7 linked regions of the Homo sapiens genome follow. The protein of the gene in region 1 purifies or fractionates together with the protein of each later gene. This does not show direct contact. Each region holds a gene or a part of one and is shown on either strand. Other genes may lie near its edges.

Evidence for each region.
Region 2: the proteins of PCDHGA4 (region 1) and EMILIN2 purify together in Homo sapiens (affinity purification with mass spectrometry; one large-scale study listed by BioGRID and IntAct). This does not show direct contact.
Region 3: the proteins of PCDHGA4 (region 1) and ZNF518A purify together in Homo sapiens (affinity purification with mass spectrometry; one large-scale study listed by BioGRID and IntAct). This does not show direct contact.
Region 4: the proteins of PCDHGA4 (region 1) and EIF2AK3 purify together in Homo sapiens (affinity purification with mass spectrometry; one large-scale study listed by BioGRID and IntAct). This does not show direct contact.
Region 5: the proteins of PCDHGA4 (region 1) and ITFG1 purify together in Homo sapiens (affinity purification with mass spectrometry; one large-scale study listed by BioGRID and IntAct). This does not show direct contact.
Region 6: the proteins of PCDHGA4 (region 1) and MELK purify together in Homo sapiens (affinity purification with mass spectrometry; one large-scale study listed by BioGRID and IntAct). This does not show direct contact.
Region 7: the proteins of PCDHGA4 (region 1) and SPSB4 purify together in Homo sapiens (co-immunoprecipitation; one large-scale study listed by IntAct). This does not show direct contact.

What each region holds. Positions count from the first base shown.
Region 1 is NC_000005.10:141,358,021-141,361,520, forward strand, and holds part of PCDHGA4 (protocadherin gamma-A4 isoform 1 precursor), read left to right. Parts: intron 1-1,973; exon of another isoform or gene 1,974-2,115; coding exon of another isoform or gene 2,116-3,500. Other genes in the region: PCDHGB2 (protocadherin gamma-B2 isoform 1 precursor), read left to right, coding at 2,116-3,500. UniProt on the Homo sapiens protein: Potential calcium-dependent cell-adhesion protein. May be involved in the establishment and maintenance of specific neuronal connections in the brain.
Region 2 is NC_000018.10:2,885,006-2,888,505, forward strand, and holds part of EMILIN2 (EMILIN-2 precursor), read left to right. Parts: coding exon 1-134; intron 135-3,500. UniProt on the Homo sapiens protein: May be responsible for anchoring smooth muscle cells to elastic fibers, and may be involved not only in the formation of the elastic fiber, but also in the processes that regulate vessel assembly. Has cell adhesive capacity.
Region 3 is NC_000010.11:96,133,297-96,136,796, reverse strand, and holds part of ZNF518A (zinc finger protein 518A), read right to left. Parts: exon of another isoform or gene 3,215-3,500; 5' UTR 3,149-3,214; exon of another isoform or gene 443-3,148; intron 383-442; exon of another isoform or gene 1-382.
Region 4 is NC_000002.12:88,568,465-88,571,964, reverse strand, and holds part of EIF2AK3 (eukaryotic translation initiation factor 2-alpha kinase 3 isoform 1 precursor), read left to right. Parts: intron 1-923; coding exon 924-1,091; intron 1,092-3,500. UniProt on the Homo sapiens protein: Metabolic-stress sensing protein kinase that phosphorylates the alpha subunit of eukaryotic translation initiation factor 2 (EIF2S1/eIF-2-alpha) in response to various stress, such as unfolded protein response (UPR).
Region 5 is NC_000016.10:47,153,891-47,157,063, reverse strand, and holds the end of ITFG1 (T-cell immunomodulatory protein isoform 1 precursor), read left to right. Parts: intron 1-1,285; coding exon 1,286-1,345; 3' UTR 1,346-2,673; downstream 2,674-3,173. UniProt on the Homo sapiens protein: Modulator of T-cell function. Has a protective effect in graft versus host disease model.
Region 6 is NC_000009.12:36,659,895-36,663,394, reverse strand, and holds part of MELK (maternal embryonic leucine zipper kinase), read right to left. Parts: intron 1-3,500. UniProt on the Homo sapiens protein: Serine/threonine-protein kinase involved in various processes such as cell cycle regulation, self-renewal of stem cells, apoptosis and splicing regulation. Has a broad substrate specificity; phosphorylates BCL2L14, CDC25B, MAP3K5/ASK1 and ZNF622.
Region 7 is NC_000003.12:141,054,347-141,057,846, reverse strand, and holds part of SPSB4 (SPRY domain-containing SOCS box protein 4), read right to left. Parts: intron 1-3,500. UniProt on the Homo sapiens protein: Substrate recognition component of a SCF-like ECS (Elongin BC-CUL2/5-SOCS-box protein) E3 ubiquitin-protein ligase complex which mediates the ubiquitination and subsequent proteasomal degradation of target proteins.

The sequences.
Region 1 (3,500 bases):
CTCTACTAAAATACAAAAAGTTAGCTAGGCGTGGTGGTGTGTGCCCGTAGTCCCAGCTACCCTGGAGGCTGAGGCATGAGAATTGCTTGAACCTGGGAGGCAGAGGTTGCAATGAGCTGAGATCATGACACTGTACTCCAGCCTGGGCAACAGAGCAAGCCTCTGTCTCCAAAAAGTAAAATAAAATAAAGTAAAATAAAGAATAAATTTCCTTTTCTCTTAGGTGTTCCTGAAAAGATACAAGAGACCTGTAAAATAGAAGGCAATTGTGTAAATTCACATTTACAATATTCTTTCTCATGAAGCTATTGTTGGATCTGGACTGAGGGTTTTTTAATTTCCTATTTTCACACTCTACCATGCTTTGCTTGAAGTTTACTTTTCCTTCCTTGAAAGGGTATTTTCCATTATAACAGGCAACGTCAATTTAAGAATACTGGCAATTTGTGAGTTTAACTTTTAGATATAACTTTAACAGGATATTTTCTCAATGAACTGGTATATTTCAAATATTTTCTTGTTGCTGTTCTGAGATGCACCAGAAGTGACTATGTGTGATTCCTCTGGTGCACTCCTGTGATTATGAGAAATATTTCCAAGCTAATTTCAGTCATATATAAGTAGATTCTAGGAGTAACTTTAATAATTTTTAAATTGCTTATCATGACATCACTATTGAGACTTTCTTGATTTCCAAGGAAAATATAAGTTTTTGGAGTCTTTTCTCTTGTCATCATGTGAGCCTCTTTCAAAGGTTGAGTTACTTGGGTTCTGGACTGATATGATTTACGCTGCTTAGTAAGGTGGCCTCATCCCTATTGCTACAAATTGCTTTCAGATATTTCTGTCATCATGTGGCTCTGGGATTATTTTATATGAGGGAAAATATTTTGTGTGTAGGGGATATACAACACTTTTGTTCTTTGTGCTTTCATTTAGGTTCTGTGAGAATTCAAAATTCATGAATGCATATGCTTACACAAATTAGTGTAATTTGATAACTGGAAGTTGTAGTGATAGACTGTGGAATATGCCTCAATTTGACTTACAAAGGAGAGTTTTAGTTTCTACATGGTTTTGTATTCATAGAAAGTTGTGGTGCAATACATAGAGTAAGCTGGAATATGATATGATGCAGTTACCTGGCTTGGGGAGCAGAAAGCAGAAATAACAAGTGAATGTTGAGAGACAACTTACATCTGAGGAGAGATTGTTTAAAGTAATTAAGCCATAAAATATAATTTGGAAATGCTCAATTGGTCTGAAACTGTGTCAAGCATATTCAGGTGTTGGCATTAGGAATATATTCCAGAATGAGAGTGCCACATGTTTTAAAGGCCTAGGAAAGCAGTAGATAATTTATAACCTAAAATCAAATTTTTTAAAAAATGTGTTTTTGTTAGAATGGGCAGTGGGTTTCTTTTAGCAAATAACAATTTTGATTAAACAAATTGTTGTATATTCATATTACGGACTACTAGATAACTATATTATGGGCCACTAGATAACTATAAGAAATAAATAGGAAAGCTCTCTATGTACTGATATGATCTTTAAGATATAACAACTAAAAAAGCAATGTGCAGAATATGGTATGTTGTATGCTTACATTTGTGTAAAGAAGGAGACAGAATATTTATAAAAATCCGTTGCCCTATACAAGACATATCTCCGGAAGGATACCTAAGAAACTTTAACACTCATTTCCCCTGTGAAAGCATTTCTCCTCATCTAAAGCAGAGATGAAAGGAAGAACCTATGCTGAATGCATCTTTTGAATTTGGAACTATATGAATATTTCACATATTTTAAAACAAATGAAGACTTTATAAATTAAAAAAGAAAAGAAAAGAAAAAAGTTCTTAGCAAATATTGACAAGCCATTAGTGCAGTTTCCTGAGAAAACCTCTGAGCGTCGCTGTTGGTCAAAAGAACGAAGAGAAGCGTTTGGGAGCCTCTTAGAGGGGAACTTCCTGCACAAACCAACCACACAGAGAAGGCCAGTATAGATTCGGAAACAGAAAACAAAAGCAGGAAAAGTGACCTTAGCCCGGATTCTGCCATCCCCGGAAGGCTTATTCCTCCTATGGGCAAAGGAGCAAAGGGAGCCAGAAGATGAAAGCGAGCTCAGGGAGGTGCGGGCTGGTGCGGTGGCTGCAGGTACTGTTGCCCTTCCTGTTGTCTTTGTTCCCCGGGGCTCTCCCAGTCCAGATCCGCTATTCAATTCCAGAGGAGCTGGCCAAAAACTCGGTCGTAGGAAACCTCGCCAAGGATCTGGGGCTCAGCGTCCGGGACTTGCCAGCCCGGAAGCTGCGGGTTAGCGCGGAGAAGGAATATTTCACAGTAAACCCAGAAAGCGGAGACTTACTTGTGAGTGACAGAATAGACCGAGAACAGATATGCGGGAAGCAGCCTCTGTGTGTTCTGGATTTCGATACTGTCGCTGAAAATCCACTAAATATTTTCTACATAGCAGTAATTGTGCAGGATATAAATGATAATACCCCGCTATTCAAACAGACTAAGATTAATTTAAAAATTGGCGAATCCACTAAGCCAGGTACAACATTTCCACTTGACCCAGCCCTGGATTCAGATGTTGGTCCTAACTCACTACAAAGATACCACCTTAATGACAACGAGTACTTTGATCTCGCTGAGAAACAGACTCCAGATGGTCGTAAATATCCTGAGTTGATTCTAAAACACTCTCTGGACAGAGAAGAGCACAGTTTACATCAATTGGTCCTCACAGCTGTGGATGGCGGAGACCCACCTCAAAGTGGCACGACCCAAATCCGAATCAAAGTCACGGATGCCAACGATAACCCTCCAGTGTTCAGCCAGGACGTGTACAGGGTCACCCTGAGGGAGGACGTGCCGCCGGGCTTCTTTGTGCTTCAAGTGACAGCCACCGACCGGGATGAAGGCATAAACGCAGAGATCACCTACTCCTTTCATAATGTGGACGAACAAGTGAAACACTTTTTCAACTTAAATGAAAAAACAGGAGAAATCACGACAAAGGATGATTTGGATTTTGAGATTGCAAGTAGTTACACTCTGAGTATCGAAGCAAAAGATCCTGGAGATCTAGCAGCCCACTGCAGTATCCAAGTTGAAATTCTTGATGACAACGATTGTGCACCTGAAGTTATTGTGACTTCAGTATCTACTCCCCTACCGGAGGATTCGCCACCAGGAACAGTGATCGCCTTGATAAAAACGAGAGACAGAGACTCTGGAGAAAATGGAGAAGTTTACTGCCAAGTGTTGGGAAATGCCAAGTTTATTTTGAAATCTTCCTCAAAGAACTATTACAAACTAGTGACAGACGGCGCTCTGGACCGGGAGGAGATCCCAGAATACAATCTCACCATCACAGCCACCGACGGGGGCAAGCCGCCCCTCTCCTCCAGCATAATTGTCACCCTGCACATCTCCGACGTCAACGATAATGCCCCAGTTTTCCAACAGACTTCCTACATGGTTCACGTGGC
Region 2 (3,500 bases), on another chromosome or scaffold:
GACAGTGACACAGTTGGAATGGAGGTGCTGTCCTGGCTTTAGAGGGGGAGATTGCCAAGAAGGTCCCAAAGACCCCGTGAAGACCCTCCGCCCCACGCCGGCTCGGCCTCGAAACAGCTTGAAGAAAGCCACAGGTAACTTCTTATTTGTGCTATTATGTATGGCCACCTTTAATATTTCCGGTGCTCCTTCAAACAACAGGATTTGTGCTTTACAATGGTGAGCTTTGAATGGCCTTCGAATAACACACATAGATACCTGCAGTAGCCACATGTGACAAATTTATTCTCAGGAGCAGTAGCAATTGTAAGACAAACTTCCTTGCAAGTAAATTGCTTTGCTAGGGCCAGCTTGTTGTGAAAGCCAATGCCTTAAACATCAGGGTAGGAAATGCCAGTGGGTTCAGACTTGTGTCACCTGGAGGCACAGCTGTGAAGAGATTCAGATGTAATGATGTACTGTTTGTTTTTACTTGGGCCCATACATCTGAATTTAGGGGGGTTAAAATTGTTTTTTATTTTTTATTTTTTTGAGATGGAGTCTCGCTCTGTCGCCCAGGCTGGAGTGCAGTGGCGCAATCTCGGTTCACTGCAACCTCTGCCTACCTGGTTCAAGCAATTCTCCTGCCTTGGCCTCCGAGTAGCTGGGATTACAGGCGCCTGCCACCATGCCCGGCTGATTTTTGTACTTTTGGTAGAGATGGGGTTTCACCATGTTGGCCAGGCTGGTCTCCAACTCCTGACCTCAAGTGATCTGCCCACCTCGGCCTCCCAAAGTGCTGGGATTACAGGCGTGAGCCACTGTGCCTGGCCATCACTTCATCTTTTTAAGTTCAGTCACAATAAATGCAGCCTAGGTTTTCTTATGAAATTAGATGCTTAAATGATTATATTTTGCCATGAGGTGTTCTCAGGTTTGAAACTCGTAGTTCTTCCCAACATTGTCTGTAAAAATAGATTTTAAAATGACTTTTTAACTACAAAAGTAATGCACATCAATTAAAGAATGTTTGAAAAATATTTAAGGATACATAATCTCATGACTAAATGAGAACTACTGTTGACATTTTGTTATAGAACCTTACTCTCTTTCCTATGTCTGTACATTGATTTTGTTAAAGAAAAATTCATTTATCTCACAAATATTTATTGAACTTCTATATCTGTCAGGCTCTATACTGGGTACTTGGAATAAGTGAGAAAAAAGGCAGACAGAGTCCCTGACTTCATGGAAGGCAGACATTAGAGAGTAATTACAATAATTCATGACAGATACTGGGATGGAGGGAACATGACATGGGGGCTGGTGGATTGTAATCATTTATTTTTGTTTTGTTTCATTTTAGTTTTTGTTTGACAGAAGTTTAAGCATATTGTAGTTTAATAAGTTGAATAGCTTTATAAGGACTAATAGGAAAAACAATGACCACCCTGAAACCCTTTTTCTCATTTTCCCTTCCCATGGGTAGTACTTTAAACTCTTCAGATGAATCTTTTGGAATTTACCTCCATATCTATTGGTTTTTCATTATGGAAGGTGAGAATTTAACTCCCTTTCATCCACTCCTCAACACATGGCTCCTATCCCCCCATCCCTTCCATACAGTTAGACCATATTCTTTATTTACTCAGTATTCAGTGTTTACATTGTAGTAACTATGTAGATAATGTTTACAGCTGAGCCATGTGGTGTACTATGAATAGATTTTCTTTCCTACGCAGCTTTTTGATTCCTTACAGTTAAATCATTGTCTTATGTTTTTCCTTTGCTTAGTTTTCTCTCTTTTTATTGCTATTTCAACCCAACTCTTCTCTGGCTCTCTAAATGTCCCCTCCATATGTTCAGACACAGCATTTTCATCTTCTTGAAGAAGTCTCCCTTGAGCCTTCTCACTTGCCCTACCTGGACGGGACATCCTCTTTTCCTGTCTTCACCCGAGGATCTTAACTTGCCCCTCTCCTGTTGAATTCCCTGTTTCCTGTGTCCCCTGCTCCCTCTTTCTTGGCTTAGCCCCTTGCTTTGCTTGAGCATGTCCTTTAGTAGCTTCATGAGACAATTACATGGGAAGCAAACTTTTTACCACTTTATAGTATGAACACTATTTTTTATTCTAGCTTCAGAAATCTAGGTCAGAAATCACTTTCCTTCAGAATTTTGACAATAGTGCTCAGTTTTTCTCTAGCTTCCAATATTGCTGCTAAAAAAACACCAAAACTTTTCTGACTCCCAGTTTTTTGTGTGTGACTTGAGTAGGTTTTTTTGTCTCCCTCCTCCTTTTATTTTGTCCTTTTAGTGGGATTTTAGGAAGGAGTAAAAAGAAATGCTTTTCCTCTGATATAGTTTGAATGTTTGTCCCCTCCAAATCTCATGTTGCAATGTGATCTTCAATGTGGGAGATGGGGTATCATGGGAGGTGTTTGGGTCATGGAGGTTGATCCTTCATGAATGGCTTGGTACCCTCCTTGCGGTAATAAATGAGTTCTTGCTCTGTTAGTACACGAGAGCTGGTTGGTTGGAAGAGCCTGGCACCTTCTCCCTTCCCTCTTGCTCCCTCTCGCTCCCTCTCTTACCATGTGACACACTGGCCCTCTTTTCACCTTCCGTCATGAGTAGAAGCTTCCTGAGGTCCTGACCAGAAGCAGTTGCTGACACCATGTTTCTTGTACAGCCTACAAAACTGTGAGCCAAATAAACCTCTTTTCTTCACAAATTACCCAGTCTCAGATATTCCTTTATTTCAATACAGAATGGACAAACATACCCTGAATTCACTGTCATTATAAAAAAAATACTATTTTTACAACTTTTTCTATTTTAGAGACAGGGTCTTGCTCTGTAACCCAGGCTGGAGTGTAGTGGCATGATTACTGCTCACAACCTTGGACTCCTGGACTCAAGTGATCCTCCCACCTCAGCATCCCAAAGTGCTGGGGTTACAGGCAGAACCACTGCACTCGACCTGGAACTTATTTTTTATTGAATAACCTATAATGGACAACCTTCCATGTCATGAAATATTCTACAATACTACTTAATGGCTTGAGAGAATGTGAGTTATTGAACACCATCCTCTACTGTTGGTCACTTAGGTTGTTTGTAATTTTTCACTATTATAGATAATATATGAATATGCATCTTTTCCTGTTAAATTTTTGCACTCATTTCTGATTATTCACTAGAATAAATTTCTTGAAGTGTAATTGTAGGGTCAAAAGATTCTGAGTATTTTGATACATGTTGCCAAATTATCCTTTGAAAAAAATGCAATTTGCACAGTCACCGTGGTATATGAGCAAAGCATTTCCTTACATCCTCAATCTTCCCCCCTTTGCCGCCCTTTGTTTTTATTTCCTTTGCTTAGAATAGCATTCCACTTGCACATGATTCAGTAACTTGTTTTTTTCTTTAGTGTCTTAAGAGAGAATAACGGCCGGGCGCGGTGGCTCACGTCTGTAATCCCAGCACTTTGGGAGGCCGAGGCGGGTGGATCACAAGGTCAG
Region 3 (3,500 bases), on another chromosome or scaffold:
AAACTACAGCATTTAATGAGACAATGACACAACAATAAATTCTACATCATTCCTAGTTCTGGAGCCCAAAATGAACGTTCTATGAGCAATCAATCATCACTTTAAGTCTGTTCCTTATCTTTAAAAACATTTTTTTTTAAATAGAGATGGGGTCTCACTATGTTGCCCTGGCTAGTCTTGAACTCCTGGGCTCAAGCGATCCTCCCAGCTCAGCTGCTCAATGTGCTGGGACTACAGGCATAAGCCAGCTCATTAAAAAGCCACATTAAAACGCCTTTAAATGTTTTTACATCTATTGCTACATTCGTTTCAAACTGGCTTTCTCACTAAGGAATAGGGTATGGCTTTGACTATTACTAAGAGATCTCTCAAAAAGGGAAAGGTAAGAAGAAATAAATAAATATATATAACATTTCTTCTTACCTTTCCCTTTTTGAGAAAGGTTATATATACATATTTATAAATCGGCATTCCAAGTTAATTGCTATTTTTAAAAAATCTTCAAGACAGATGAATAAAACAAAGGTTTTTGCCAAAATGAGTAATTTTACAGTATTTCATCACATTTAATTCACATTTTAGCATACAAAAATGAAATTATATGAAAAGAAATATACACATTTTTTCAAAGAAATCTCCATCTTAGTAGAAAGGGCCAAAATTTCTGCTTGGCTTTCCAAATGCCTCATACATAGATTTACCTAAAACAGTCACCTTATTTTCCACTACCTCATTTCCAAAGAACACATACTGTTACAGTGAAACCAATCTCCACTCCAACCTGGATCAGCCTATAATCATTTTTAACTCCATCCTTTTTTCAGTTATTCTCTGTGCCTATCAAAGCCACATTCATAAGCAGAAATACATTTAAAGTTGTATATTCTTCAGGAAATCTTCCTAAATGGGCCAACCTGCTCACTTCCTTCCCATCAAAATTCACTTAAAATACAACTGTGCATTCATTTATCTGTTTTTTCTGTTGTGTTTGCTGTATATTAATATGAATTCCTAACTAGAAGCACTTCCAAGACAAGGAATTCTTCTTGTTCTTACATTATTACTTAGATGCCAAGCACCACAGTCATTATTCTCAACACACGCTTATTAATCTGTGCACCAGAAATAAATAAAAATATGCTATATATCCACCATCCACTCAGTCTAGTACATATAATCTTGCCTATCCAGGCAGTTGCACATACTTGTACATAGTGGACACTCAAAAAAATGTTTGTAGGTTGAGTGAAAGTAGATTGAATGCATGCACAAATGATGAATAAATAAAGGGAACTCTTTATAAGGTATAGGAAAGTGGGGAACTACAGAAGGATGTGAATGATCAATCTGAAACTTTAGACCTTAAATTCATAAGGGCCATATATTCATCAGAACACTTTCTGCTGCAATCCAATTCAAACCAATTTACACAAAAAATTTTGGCACAAGGACTGAGAAGGACACCAGGATAGTTCACAAAATCAAAAGAAAAGTAGGTACCACTTACCATGTTCCCTGAGATTGAAACTGGCACTACCACCATCCATCTCCCATCTCCTTATGGCTTCACTTTCTCCCACTACACAGATGCGCTTTTCATACACGTGGTAAAGAATGCCACCAGCACCTTCCCAGATTAACAATTTCAGAGAAAAGGTAGTATCTTTGTCCTAGCATTCAACCATAAATTTCAAAAAAAGGATTCTGACTGGCTCTGCATGAGTAACAGCAATCACTGTTGCAATAGGGATGACCAAGCTCAGGTTATAAGACAGTAAGACTGACGGACAGCCCACCAACCACTCAGAATAGGGGAGGGGTGGTTCTCTAATGAAGAGATACTGAGTTGACAAAAACAATATATGACATGTCTTTTACCAGCCACAACCTTCAACAAACCAATATTAATCAGGAATTGACGATAAGCTTACTACATTTTGAAATTATCTGACTTTCCTCATGAAATGAGACCTATGTGAAGCCCACTTAATTTTCTGAAACTTCACATCATGTACCTTCATTCTAATATTCTGACACTTGTTTCATGCAGCCATACCAGTCACAACTTTAAATTTTTAGTCAGACTTTGCTCACAAGTTTTCAAGATAAATTAATACAAATCGTTTTGGTCAGTCATCACACAGCAGTCTCCTATTTACTTCACTACAACTACAGCTTTCATTCTTCATTACATTACTTTTTCTGAGTAGTCTGGGTCAAATAGTACAAACTGAATATTCCTTAACCAAAATGCTTGGAAGTAGGCCGGGAGCAGTGGCTCACCCCTGTAATCCCAGCACTTTGGGAGGCCAAAGCAGACAGATCACTCAAGGTCAGGAGTTCTAGACCAGCCTGGCCAACATGGCGAAGCCTCGTCTCCACTAAAAATAAAAAAAAAATTAGCCAGCCATGGTGGCATGCGCCTATAGTCCCAGCTACTCGGGAGGCTGAGGCAGAAGAATTGCTTGCACCTGGGAGGCAGAGGTTGTAGTGAGCCGAGATCGCGCCACTGCACTCCAGCCTGGGTGGCAGAGTGAGACTCCGTCTCAAAAAAACAAAACAAAACAAAACAAAAAAGCTTGGAACCAGAAGTGTTTCAGATTTCAGATTTTTGTGGATTTTGGAATATTTGCATTACTTACTGGCTGAATATCCAAAATCCAAAATGTTCCAGTGATGATTGCCTTTGAGCTTCATGTCAGCACTCAAAAAGTTTCAGATTTTGGAGTATTTTAGATTTCAGGCTTTTAGATTTGGGATGCTCAACCTTTAGGAAAATTCTTAGCATTCAGAATTACTTTATCTCTTCAGGAATAACACAGTACCCATGTGAATCTCGTGGTAGGAAGTCAAACAAATATTATATAGGAAAAAGTTACTTAATGACATAAACGATAACGTGGTACCTCAACTCAGCTCTACTGCTCTCTACTCAATGTACATTATTTTCTGACAAAATAAAAATTCATGCCTTTGTAAAAAAATGGCCCTGAACAGAAATCCATTTGCTGGTGAAGTTCAGGGAAGAACACGGTTATTATGATAATTAAAGCAATACTGTAAGGTGGTATAGTCTATGTCAGCTATTTCAGCAGTTACATAAATAATCTTATTCCTAATTTACGGTCATACTTATGTGTATACTTACTGCATTTAGAGGAATTTTATGATACTGTGGTATCCAAGAATCTTAGCATTTCAAAGATCCCAGGACCTATCCAACACAAAGAGTAGGAGACATCTGTGTTTTGAGGGTAGAAAAAACATGTTTTTTTACATGGGTACAATATTTTCCACTACATTTCCAAAGCTTTCCTTATAATACCATAGATTTGTTGGCATATTTTTCCTCCTTTTTTGTCTACACCCAGACATTCACATGACTGTCTTCAAGAAACCAATCATAACACTATAGTGATTCCCAAGTCCCTTTCCTGATTCATAATGAAGATGCTATTAGTCATAATATAAACACATATCAGATAATTTTTCTTTAGGTA
Region 4 (3,500 bases), on another chromosome or scaffold:
TAGAGTAGACTCTGAGGGAGAGGTGATGTATTTCATGTAGGGCACCTTGGGTTTGAGAAGCCCATGAGACCTCTGGTTAGATGTATTCAATAAACAGTGTAATATGAGTTTAGAACTCAGGGCAGAGATCTGGGAGTAGATATAGTCTTGAGAACATAGAGGTTTTACGAGAGGCAGCATAGAGTAGTAGTGAAGAGCTCTTATCCCTTCTGATAATCTATATCCCCCTCAGACGCAAACCAAAAGATCAGTCTGTTTCATTCATTCACCAAATAGTAATTAGCTACCATAGAGCAAGAACTGGACTGAAATCTGGGCACGTGGCAGTGGATCACAAGGTCCTTTCCTCATAGAGCCAGACTGCTCAGGTCTGAATCCCTGCTTCACCACTTGCTAGTTGGGTAACCTTGGGCAATTTGTTTAACTTCTGGGCCTCACTTTCTATGTCTGTAAAATGGGGTTAGTACTCATCTAATGGGGTTGTAGTACATGAGTTAGTAGTAGTAAACTGCTTTGAACAGTGCCTAGCACATTGCAAGTTCTATTTATGAACTAGTTATTATTAGTTATAATTATTAAGGCTTTAAGTCATAAGTGTAGAGATGCTTGCCTGGGAAGAATATATAGAATAATAAGATTGAGGATTAAGTACCATGATCCCTAGGGAATGTGCACCTCAAAGGGTTTAAGTAGATGTTCAATAAATACTAGCACTCTTTGCTACCCTTCCCTTTTCTTTACTAGCAGTACTTGTCTGGCACAGAAAAATTGTCACTATTTTCCTGTTAGCCCATTTTAAAAAGAAATATGCTTGAAAATATCTAGTTTGTTGTATTTTTTCTTTGTAGTCTTTTAAATAATTCTCTTTACTTTTTCGCCTCCATGCACACCCACTGTACTTTTGTCTGTTGTATTCTTTCCAGCCATCCAACATATTCTTTACAATGGATGATGTGGTCAAGGTTGGAGACTTTGGGTTAGTGACTGCAATGGACCAGGATGAGGAAGAGCAGACGGTTCTGACCCCAATGCCAGCTTATGCCAGACACACAGGACAAGTAGGGACCAAACTGTATATGAGCCCAGAGCAGGTGAGTTTTTCAGACCTTTACTTACTAGCACAGCAGCAGATGTACCTGATGAATCTCTTCTCATGTTTTCATTAAAATACCCAGTAATCTAAAACCCAGTAAGTCTGAAAATTATGAAAACTGGCAGTAGTGTTCCAGTAGTGGAATAGTGACACAGCTAAGATGTAGTTTCTACAACCTGAATTGGGGCTGGATTAAGAAAAATACAACACATAAAATGCACTCACCCCCTGAACAAGCACCTGACAGCAACCAGGAATTTGGAAAGAGACTTTGAATGCCACCCTCCCAAACTTAACTCGTTTGCCTTGTGTAGACTGTGTTGGAACTGTTTTCAGAGCCAGCTAGACCCAGAGGTACTATACTGAGCTGCCCTTTGTGGTCACTCATAGGCAACTTCCAGCATGTACCACAGTAGGAAATAGAGGCACACAGGCCGGCAGGTGTTGCCTTGTGGGCTGCTTGGCCTTCACAGGAAAAGCACTGTAATCAGGGCAGGGACTGGAAGAGCTGGGGGAGCAGGGCATCCTGGAAGCATCAGGCGAGCATGCTCAGCCACCACCAGGCAAATGATCTTCACAAGCTTCTCTATGCTTAGAGCAGCGGGTCTCGGACGTTTTGGGCTCAGTACATACTTACACTTGTAGAAATAACTGAGAACCCAAAAGGTTTTCTTAACAAAATTTTATCTATCGATATTTGTTATATTAGAAGTTAAAAGAGAAATTTATAAAACTTTATTAAATCAACTAAATAACAATGAAACCTATCACATCTTAAGATATTTTTATGAAAAATAAGTATTTTCTAAAACAAAAAAAAATTACAGGCACCAATTCCCCTGCAAAAAAAAAAAATTAGAGTGACATTTGTTTACATTTTTGCCAGTCTCTTTAAAGCTAACTTATAAAAGTGCTACATTCTTCTATCTGCTTTTGTGTTCAATCTGTTGCAGTATGTTATTTTGGCTGAAGTACATGAGGAAATCTGGCCTCGCACAGATATGTAGTTGGAAAAAAGAGCAATATTTCATTTCAAGTAATTGTAGATATTTTGTCTTTGATAGTATATCAAAACTTAGTAAATGATAGTTTCTTAGAAGTCATTTACACTGTGGAATCTAAAACCATTCATGAATATTTTGTACTCTGGTACTTTTAACATCCCTTGGTCCATTTTGTACTTTGAATGGATCTTTTTACCCATGCTTGACTTTACATTGTGCATTAGTCATTTGGAAACTATTGGTTCCCTAAGTTTGGCAACTATTCCAAAAGTCATCACAGTTCATTATGTAATATAAAAAGTCACTTTGGTTAATACAACCACCAATCTCACCAGAAAAGGCTTTATGTACATATTAGGAGGCTATCAAATTCCCACTGGTAGACTGAAATCTTCCAAAATTTTAATTTTCACTTAAAAGCTCAACTTTTAACATTGGCAACAAATACTGTTAGTTTTCCTTGAAATGCCATTCTCACATTGTTCATCTTTTTTTCTCTTTAAAAAAAAAATGTTGTTTGTTTTTTTTTTTGAGATGGGGTCTTGCTGTGTTACCCAGACTAGTTTTGAACTTCTGGCCGCAAGCCATCCTTGAACCTCAGCCTCCCAAAGTGCTGGGATCACAGGCGTGAGCTACCATGCCCGGTCTCATTGTTCATCTTTAAGAAAGTGTCCCTCGGCCAGTCGCAGTGGCTCACACCTATAATCCCAGCACTTTGGGAGGCCGAGGCAGGCAGATTACCTGAGGCCAGGAGTTCGAGACCAGCATGGCCAACATGGTGAAACCCCGTCTCTTGTAAAAACACAAAAATTAGCTGGGCATAGTAACGCATGCCTGTAGTCCCAGCTACCCAGGAGGCTGAGGCACAAGAATTGCTTGAACTTAGGAGGCAGAGGTTGCAGTGAGCCGAGATTGCACCACTGCACTTCAGCCTGGGTGACAGAGCAAGACTCCATCTCGAAAAAAAAACTCTCTGTCAAGTATCCAAGTCTCAATAACTGTAGTTTGTCTACCAATTATTCTTTCAAGTCAAAATGGTGTTCTATGAAAAGAGCAGCTAGAGCATATTGTAACTCAAATAATTGCACAAATGCTAATGATACTCACAAGCTAATCTATGCTTACATCAGCAGGTCTCAACTTCTTAAAATTAGTTTGTTTTTTAAATTGACTCATAATTGTACATATTTATGGGGTACATACTGTCGTTTTAATACATACACTATTTAGTGATTGGATCAGGGTTATTAGCATATCCAAGGTATCAAACTTGGAGACAACTATTGTACTTTGGTATGGAGCATAAATGTTTTTCTGAATATTTTCCATTTTGTCAGATTATTAAAAAGGTGTATATTTAAAGGTTGAGATTTAATAAATTAATAATTTCTACTGCTAAGGAC
Region 5 (3,173 bases), on another chromosome or scaffold:
ACAGCTGACTCCACTTCTACATTCCTACTGCACTGCCCCTTCTTACATCCTACTTGGTCTCTTTCTTTCCGTTCTCTCCCCTTTCCATTCTCTCCCCTTTCCATTCCATTTAGCACACTGCTGCCAGTGATTCATTCTGTTTAGCCTTCATCATGTCACTCCCCTGCTGAAAAAGCTCTAGTGAATATCCATTGCCTTTTATGTATAAAATCCTTGGCCTGGCCTGCATATGACTTCCATGTGACTCCACAGTCGTATTTTTTACCAGTTGCTTTCACATATCCGTGCTCCTTCCAGCCTTCTCATGATTGATCATGTTGTAACCCCAGCTTGGAGTGAATACCACTCTCCCCATTTCCATACTTTCAAATGCTTTCCCTGTCTTTTCAAAGCTTTCCCTTTCCTCACCCGGATCTAGAAGTAGTCTCTTAGACTTGGTAACATTTTTCACTTTTTATCTTGAACTACAGTTATACAATATGTTTTGCATTTGTCTTTTTGGAGAACAAGATACAAAACGGAGGTTTTTTTAATATTAAAATAGCAAACACAGTATTGGTATTGGGAGTATTAGAAGCAAAGGGCCAATGAATATCTGCTAAATTGACAAGTTAATGAAAAAATAATTAGTACATTAGTACTCTGTCACCCAGGCTGGAGTGCAGTGGTGCAATCTTGACTCACCGCAACTTCCGCTCCTGGGTTCAAGCGATTCTCCTGCCTTAGCCTCCCAAGAAGCTGTGATTACAGGTGCCCACCACCACACTCAGCTAATTTTTGTATTTTTTTGGTAGAGACGGGGTTTCACCATGTTGGCCAGGCTGGTCTCGAATTCCTCACCTCAAGTTATCTGCCCTCCTTGGCCTCCCAAAATGCTGGGATTACAGGCATGAGCCACCACCACACCCAGCCATTAGATTTGTTTATTAACATCATTGTTAAAAATGACAGAAAAATGCAATCATTGATTCATCCTTATAGAATCTAATACTTATTCCTATTTTCAAGTAGATAATAAATGATAAGAAGCTAAGTATTTAAGGACCCTAAGTATTTAATGTGCCTTAAGTATTCAAGTATTTATTGTTTTTTAATCAATTAGATCATTAATTATAAAATAGCTACTATAAACTACAAAAATACTAGGACTGTTGAATTAGGAAATCATATCTATTATCTGCTAATTGCTGGAGACTTTTAAAAATGAATCACTGTGTATTTCAGAAATGAGTCTTTTCATAACATCTTTCTACCATTTATAAACGAGTCTAAAATTCTTTTTCAGAAAGCAGATGATAGAGAAAAACGACAAGAAGCCCACCGGTTTCATTTTGATGCTATGTGACTTGCCTTTAATATTACATAATGGAATGGCTGTTCACTTGATTAGTTGAAACACAAATTCTGGCTTGAAAAAATAGGGGAGATTAAATATTATTTATAAATGATGTATCCCATGGTAATTATTGGAAAGTATTCAAATAAATATGGTTTGAATATGTCACAAGGTCTTTTTTTTTAAAGCACTTTGTATATAAAAATTTGGGTTCTCTATTCTGTAGTGCTGTACATTTTTGTTCCTTTGTGGAATGTGTTGCATGTACTCCAGTGTTTGTGTATTTATAATCTTATTTGCATCATGATGATGGAAAAAGTTGTGTAAATAAAAATAATTAAATGAGCAGGAATTTTTGTGTCCACTTGACTTGGTCTTGCTTCTTATTCTAATGATGCAAATTATACTTTTGTGAATATATCACGGAGTCATTAGGCATTCAGCTTCATCACAGCAGGTCAGGGGTCTCACTGATGGCATACAATATAGTGATCGGGTACTCTGACTTGGTAGCACAGTAAGACAGACTTGCCTTAAACTCCTAATTCAACCACTTACAAAGTCATTGTTTGAACTTGGCTCTTGTTTAACCTCTGTAAACCTCAGTTTTCTTGTTTATTCAGTGGGGCTAATACTTGAGTTACTGTAAACATTAAATGGGATGATGTATGTGAAGTGCTTAGCTTGGTGCCTAGCACAGAGTAAGTGGTCAATATGTGGTAGTTGTCATTATTAATATTTTAGATGATCTTATTAGACTTATACATCTAATTATAGAAATACATAGACTTGATAGAATTTTATTTTCAGGCATGAAGAAATATTCTTTGGAAAAGCTAAATTTTTGGTGATTGACATAAAGATTTACTTGCTCATATTAACTAAAAATTATAGTACTCTCCAAGAATTAATGTGCCCTAAAAATTTTCCTCCAAAAACTTATCCTTATCATGTGATAATGAAGAACATTTGATTTCTTGAAAGGAAACTGCTGTAGGCAGCATCTGGGAATGCAAATCTTCAATCACATTTCTATTCTCAAACACTTGGAGAAGTCTATAATTTACATTCAGACTTCAATGCAAATTTTGTATTGTGAACTTCACATTTCCAAAAAGTTACTTTAAAAAGACTTTAAGACTGAAAAAAAAAAGTTTATCAATGCTAATAATTTTCTAGTATGCAAATGGACATGTGATGCCTATAAAACACAAAAATTTCTCTGAAAACAATTTTGTTCTTATTTTTTTCTTTATAGTTCACTGAGATTGGCATGTGTTTTTACTTTGTATCTAAGCATGTTAACATGTCTTCTTAATAAATATTCCTTATTGAAACAAAGTATTTCAGTGAGTTTTTAAATAATTATTTTAGAGCATGAAGAGACCTTAGAGCTTATGAAAGCATTTATCTGGACTGGGAGACCAGGGTAAGGTGACTTGCCCACTGCCTCTCTGTGGGTCACGGGCAAGATAGGATTCTCCTGACTGTAATACTCAGTTAAATTCACTAGTTATCAGCCCACAGCACTGTCCCAGGCACTACGTGACACTTTCTCAAAGATAATTGGGATCATTATTGATATAGCCTGAGTCTTCAAACTCATGTGAATCAGAGTTTACAAGACAAATAAAATGTTAATGACAATTAAAACTACAATCAGTGACATTAATACTGCTTCTGTATTTCCAAATGCAACTTTAATATCATTTATTAAGGGACAGCAGGTAAAAAATGTATCACAACATTGAGAATCACTAACAAAAACCTTTGTTTTGATTTTGAATATTGCAGTGGAAAGAGAGCAAGGCTTTGAAGTCAGACCAGTCTGGATTCA
Region 6 (3,500 bases), on another chromosome or scaffold:
TTTTAAAGAAAAGCAGGCTGGGTGCGCTGGCTCACACCTGTAATCCCAGCACTTTGGGAGGCCAAGTCATGTGATCACCTGAGGTCAGGAGTACAAGACCAGCCTGGCCAACATGGTGAAACTCTGTCTCTACTAATAATACAAAAATTAGCTGGGCATGGGGACAGGCACCTGTAATCCCAGCTACTCGGGAGGCTGAGGTAGGAAAATCGCTTGAACCTGGGAAGCAGAGGTTGCAGTAAGCTGAGATCGTGCCATTGCACTCCAGCCTGGGCAAGAAGAGAGAAACTCTGTCTCAAAAAGAAAAAAAAAAAGAAACAAGGAAAAGGAGAAAAAGAAAAAGCAGTATATTATTCAAGAAATTTTCAAAAATTGATTAAAAATACAAATCCCCATACATAGAAAGCATGATGAATCATGAACTGGATACATAAAAGAAATCCACATCTCTATTTACCAGATTATACAACTCCAGAGGACACTATCCACAGAGACACCACACAGATGGTGTGTTCCCTGGAGGTGTGCAACGCAGTAGCCCTAACAGTGAAACTGCAGAACACCAAAAGCAAAGAGAAGGTCCTAAAAGGAGCCAGAGAGAAAAGACAGACTAAAAAGGCACTAGACTGAGGTTGGTTTTTCAATAGCAACAATAGAAGCAAGAAGAAAGTGGAATAATATCTTCAATAACATCCTGTGAATCCATAAATATTTCAAAATAAAAAGTTAAAAACATTCAAGAGCTAATACACTGGACACATCAATAGCATGGAATCCAGGAGGGGTAATCAGAGATTAAGTGTTCTAAGGCCTTCATATTGTTTAGAAGGAAATTAAACATACAGATTCACAGCAGGGTGCAGGGGCTCACGCCTGTAATTCTAGCACTTTGGGAGGCCGAGGCAGGTGGATCACCTGAGGTCAGGAGTTCGAGACCAGCCTGGCCAACATGGTGAAACCCTGTCTCTACTAAAAATACAAAAATTAGCCAGACATGGTGGCGGGTGCCTGTAAACCCGGCTACTTGGGAGGCTGAGGCAGGAGAATCACTTGAACCCAGGAGGAAGAGGTTGCAGTGAGCCTGAGATCACGCCATTGCACTCAAGCCTGGGCAACAGAGCAAGATTCCATCTTAAAAAAAAAAAAAAAAAGATACAGATTCACTTTATATTTCGTTAAATTAAATGTTAAAAATTTAGAGTAAATATTAAAAGAATAGAAATCAAATAGAAACCAATAAAATGTGGGGGGAAATTAACATAAAAAATCAAGAAATAAGGGGGAAATACAGAAAAAGACACATAGGAAACATAAAAAAAGAAAGATATATAATAACTAAATCCATAATAAAAATAAGTTGGGTAAGCGCTCAATTCAAAAGACAAGATTTTCAGTTTGCATACCAAATCTAGCTATGTTTTTTTCTTTGTTTGTTTTGTTTTTTTTTTTTTTTTTTTTGAGACGGAGTCTCGCTCTGTCACCTAGGCTGGAGTGCAGTGGTGCAATCTCGGCTCACTGCAAGCTCCGCCTCCCGGGTTCATGCCATTCTCCTGCCTCAGCCTCCCAAGTAACTGGGACTAGAGGTGCCCGCCACCATGCCCAGCTAATTTTTTGTATTTTTTAGTAGAGATGGAGTTTCATTGTGTTAGCCAGGATGGTCTCAATCTCCTGACCTCATGATCCACCCACCTTGGCCTCCCAAAGTGCTGGGATTACAGGCGTGAGCCACCGCGCCCGGCCTAGCTATGTTATTTTTAAAGAGACATACCTAAATATAAGGTATGAAAGGTTTCATTGTTTTATTTGTTTCATTGTTTTATTTATTAAGGAAATCTTACTTTCTTTAATTTTATAATAGTTCTTTTATCAGGTTGACCAGTTTCCTCCCATCTTCTTATTCTTTAGGAATGATTTAGTTATTCTTGCCCCTTTGTATTTCCACATACATTTTAGAATCATTTTGACTTATTTTACATCCACTGAAAAGTTGAGATTACATTAAATTTAAAATTCATTTTGGGAAAAACTGAAATCTATACCTTCAAATCTCCCTATCCATAAACAAAGTATACCTCTTTTGTTTCAGAACTCTGTGTATTAGCCAAAGATCGCAGCATTTATTCATAGAAAACAGCTAAGTAGAAACAGTGAGTTTGAGGTGTTTGAATTTGCCCTACCTATCCCCATTCTTCTCTCTCCAGCTCTATGATAGTCTTAGAAACCCACAGCCCACAATCACGATGAAGACCAGCAACCTAGGAGCCGCTGGAGGGGGCAGAACAGGTTGGAGCTCCTTCAAAGCTTCATGCTCAGAAAACTGTCATTATTTAGCCTGGCCAGTAGTTCCCTAGAAGACCCTACTATGAAAGCTGTCTTTTTTTATTCTTTGTTTGTTTTTTATTTGAGACGGAGTTTTGCTCTTGTTGCCCAGGCTGGAGTGTAATGGCGTGAACTCAGCTCACTGCAAACTCCACCTCCCGGGTTCAAGCAATTCTCCTGCCTCAGCCTTCCGAGTAGCTGGGATTACAGGCATGTGCCACCACAGGCAGCTAATTTTGTATTTTTAGTAGAGACGGGGTTTCTCCATGTTGGTCAGGTAGGTCTTGAACTCCCGACCTCAGGTGATCCACCCGCCTCAGCCCCCCAAAGTGCTGGGATTACAGGCGTGAGCCACTGCACCCAGCCTGAAAGCTGTCTTTATTTGACCTTACTCAGAGCCTGCCCAGTATGAACAGCCTTTTCCCCAGCAGCATCTGTTAAAAAGATTTAGAGGTGCCAGGCGCAGTGGCTCACGCCTGTAATCCCAGCACTTTGGGAGGCCAACGCGGGTGGATCTCTTGAGTCCAGGAGTTTGAGACCAGCCTGGGCAAAATATTGAGACCCTGTCTCTACAAAATAATTTTGTAAAAATTAGCTGGGCATGGTGGTGCATGCCTATAGTCCCCGATACTCGGGAGGCTGAGGCAAGAAAATTGCTTAAGCCCAGGAGGTCGAGGCTGCAGTGAGCCATGATCACACCACTGGACTCCAGCCTGGTTGACGGAATGAGATCCTATCTCAAAAACAAAAAAAAATTTACAGGCAATTGTTGCACATTGTGGCTGCCGAAGCAGTAAGTAATAGCTGGTGACCACAATAAACTAACAAAAATGCTGAAAAAAAAGTTAGAGAATAAGATGTCCACAGTGAATTGGAAAAGCTCCAAAATATACCAGGGTATCTACAAGCCCAATGTACATGTATAGGATGTGCTCATACCCAGGGCTGTGCATTTGCTCAGGAAAGACTTTAGAAGGGGCTGGGCATGGTGGCTCACGCCTGTAATCCCAGCACTTTGGGAGGCTGAGGCAGGTGGATCACTTGAGGTCAGCAGTTCGAGACCAGCCTGACCAACATGGTGAAACCTCGTCTCTACTAAAAATACAAAATTAGCCAGGTGTGGTGGCGCATGCCTGTAATCCCAGCTCCATGGGAGGCTGAGGCAGGAGAATTGCTTGAAC
Region 7 (3,500 bases), on another chromosome or scaffold:
CCTTTATAGACTGCATATTACTTTCAAATATATACTACTGCACTTGTAAAAGTACACAGTTGATCTAATCACGCTCCTGCTCAAAATCCTCGACAGGTTCTCTGAGGCTTTCAGGATATTAGATATTAGTGCCTCTGGGGAGCTCCCCAGCCCCCTGTGCTCTCAGAGCCCTTGTACTTGTGCCCACCACAGCTCTTATCACAAGGGGACATGATGTCTCTTTGGCTGCCTCCCTCCCATCGGACTGGGGCAACTTGGGAGCAGGGGCCGGGTGTCCCTCATCAGAGTCCCCATGGACCTGGCTTAGAGAAAGTGGTGGGTGAACGTCTATGGAATGCACGAGCACGAACAAATGAAGAAAAGCAATACACTGCCTTAGAAAGAACCAACACTTAAGAATGAACTGGGAATGCAGAGCACTGTGAGCTCAGACTATTTATTTCATGTCTTTATTTTTCAATTTTTGACTCTGTGCAAAGGTACCAATGATAGGTGCCTGACCTTAGTTTAACTGGAATGTTTTTAAGATTTTTCTTGTGCAAATATTAAGTAGGGAGGCTGTTTTATTAAAGATGCTCATTCAGAATGAACCCACCAACAATGAATGAACTAAAGAACCCCCAAGGTTTTGTTCATAGGCATTCATTAGCTTTTCCCTGCTATACACACATGGAGCTCAGGCTACAACTGGCTGGGCAAGCCCTTTCTTCCCCAAGAGCTCACAAAGAGAGCCATCTGTCCAGTTCCAGGTGGAATCATCTCACGCCTGTTTTCCTGGAGCGAGAATCAATGAGGCTTCCCTGAGCCTCTCCTCCTCCTGGGGTTTCCATGGGAATCCTCCCACGCGTGACTGAGCCAGGGGCCCCCAAGGTGCAAGCTGGGCTGTCAGCCAGCAAGGAGAGCAGCAAATGGGATGAAGGAGGTTTGCTAGGCTGTGACCAGGGCAGCAAGCTCTGCAAGGTCATTTGAAAGAGACATACCACTGAGACAGCAAGGCCACGTGCAGTCCGGGCCAGCCCGGTCACCACAGCTGCCCCTGAGCCCAGAGGCCTGCCCCAGGCACATGTGGAGGTTGTTTGCAGGGCAGCTGGATTCCCTGAGGCCCAGCATGTCTGGGCTGGGTCAAAGCATGAAGGGAGAAGATGGGAAGGGTACCATTTAATGAAGCCCTCTGGGGAAAACGATGATGAAAACATGATAAGGTTTGCGTCCAATCCCTCATTTACCTCCCAAGATGAACCTTCTCCACTTGGTATAACTGGTTGTCTGGAAACAGAATGCCTAAAAGAAAAGCAGAACTATTCATGCCTCTGGCTTGAGCCAGGTCATAATAGGGACCTGCTGGGATTTCTGAAGATCCCTCTGTTAAGCCTACAGTATCTCTGGGGGCATTTTTGAGATACTAAGGAGGAAAGGAGAGAGGATGAGAGGAAGAGAGGAGAAAGGGAGCAGGATCGGGGAGGGAGCTGCTCCAGCCCCAGGAATCTGTACAACTTGCACATTTCATAGAATGCAGATAACAGGTAGATGTCTCCTGAAGGTAGATAACAGGTAGAATGTCTCTGTGGCCAGTAAACCGGGCCAAGGCCCACTCACTTCTGGAGAAAGCAGAGCTCCAGTTCACCATACATGACATTTCACAACATTAAAGGTCAGATGGATGACTTTGGCACTGCTCCAGCGTCTCCCACCACACATACCAGCACATTGAAGTGTAGAGCTTACCACAGCAGCTTTCCTGCCTCCTCCTGGCTCCAATGTCTTCCTGCCTACCCCATCAATGGGGCACCCCCAAGTCCATTGCTTCAACTTCAGTTTCCGCTTTTCACTCTCTCTCTCCATGCATCTTCTCTTATGACCTGCATCTCCAGCCCCGTGCAGACACTCTCAAGCCGGGTCTCCAGTGCTGCCTTCTCTCCTCAGCACAAGACCTACCTACTAGAAGCCCCTGGTCAGCCCTGCCTGGGTGTTGTTTCAAATGACCTTGTAAGGCCAGCTGACCTCTTTCCATCATAAGCCTCCTACCATGGGCACACCCACACTCTCAGCCCTGCGGGACATCTGTGGTCCATGTGCACCTCGGAATCTGCAGGTCCTAGGCTGAGCCTGGCCTCTTCCCTCTCTCACATGCCAGGTTCCTCTGCATGTCACTGTTCCTGCCATGGATCCCGTCTCTTGGTCCCCACCACTCAACCCCGTCAGCTTTCCCCTAGTTCAGAACTTGCCTGGATTACTCCACTGGTCTCTTAGCAGGCTTCCCTGACTCCACTGTTTGCCCGCCAACCCACTCTCCATGCTGCCAACAGGTAAGTTGGACCAAGACACCCACCAATCTCTTCATTCAACCCTCCAGGCAGCTTCTCCAGAGAGAAGCTGCACCTCTTTGCTTGGCACCCAGGGGCCCTCCAGGCTGCTCTTATTTCTTCCACACTGTCTGTCATCACGGCCCACCTCAGACCAGTCATGCCAGACTCTCCTCGTCAGCACATCCTGGGACTCTTCCCATCTTCTCTGACCTGGCTGACATTCTCTCACTCCCCTGCCCCTTCTAGCAGAAGCAGAACTGGGCACCCCTCCGTGGCAGCCCCTCAGCCCACTACATCCTCTTCCCTCCGCCCCATTATGTCCTCTTGCCTACGTCCCACTGCACCCTCTGCCCTCCAACCCACTTTGTCTTCATCTTAGCTGTTGATTCCTGCTGCTATCTCTTGCACCACATCTGCATTTCTTAATGGAGCCAGTGCCCAACCAGCCTTTATCTCCAATACTCGTACACAGCCTTGTACCTGTTACCTCTGGCTGCATTAAGACGTGCTTGTCAGACTGAAGAAGGACTAGCCACTCTATACCTCCTGCATGGTTTGCATTTTTTTTTTTTTTTTGAGACGGAGTCTCGCTCTGTTGCCCAGGCTGGAGTGCAGTGGTGCCATCTCGGCTCACTGCAAGCTCTGCGTCCCAGGTTCATGCCATTCTCCTGCCTCAGCCTCCCCAGCAGCTGGGACTACAGGCGCAAGCCGCCACGCCGGGCTAATTTTTTGTATTTTTAGTAGAGACGGGGTTTCACTGTGTTAGCCAGGATAGTCTCGATCTCCTGACCTTGCGATCCCCCCGCCTCGGCCTCCCAAAGTGCTGGGATTACGGGCATGAACCACCACACGTATACATTTTAAATGGAGTAAGTTCTGAACTCAATGTGTGAAGCAAAAATCACATGCAATCAACACTGCTTAGGAAAGTTCTTCTAAAGTTCCACACAAAGTTCATGATAACTGGTTTGAGGTATACCACCTCTTTCCCAAAGGGCACACCACCCACAACTGTTTTTCCTATAGCCTCAAAACAAATCCCTATTTCTTGAACTGATCAGCAGCAAATAAATTAGTTGGCTTATGTAGGAACCATGTTTTATTAAAAACGTGTTGCTGGTTTAAAAATTTTTTATAGTTGATCTTTTCTTACCACAGATGGTCATGTTCACATAAATCAAGAGTACATACTAT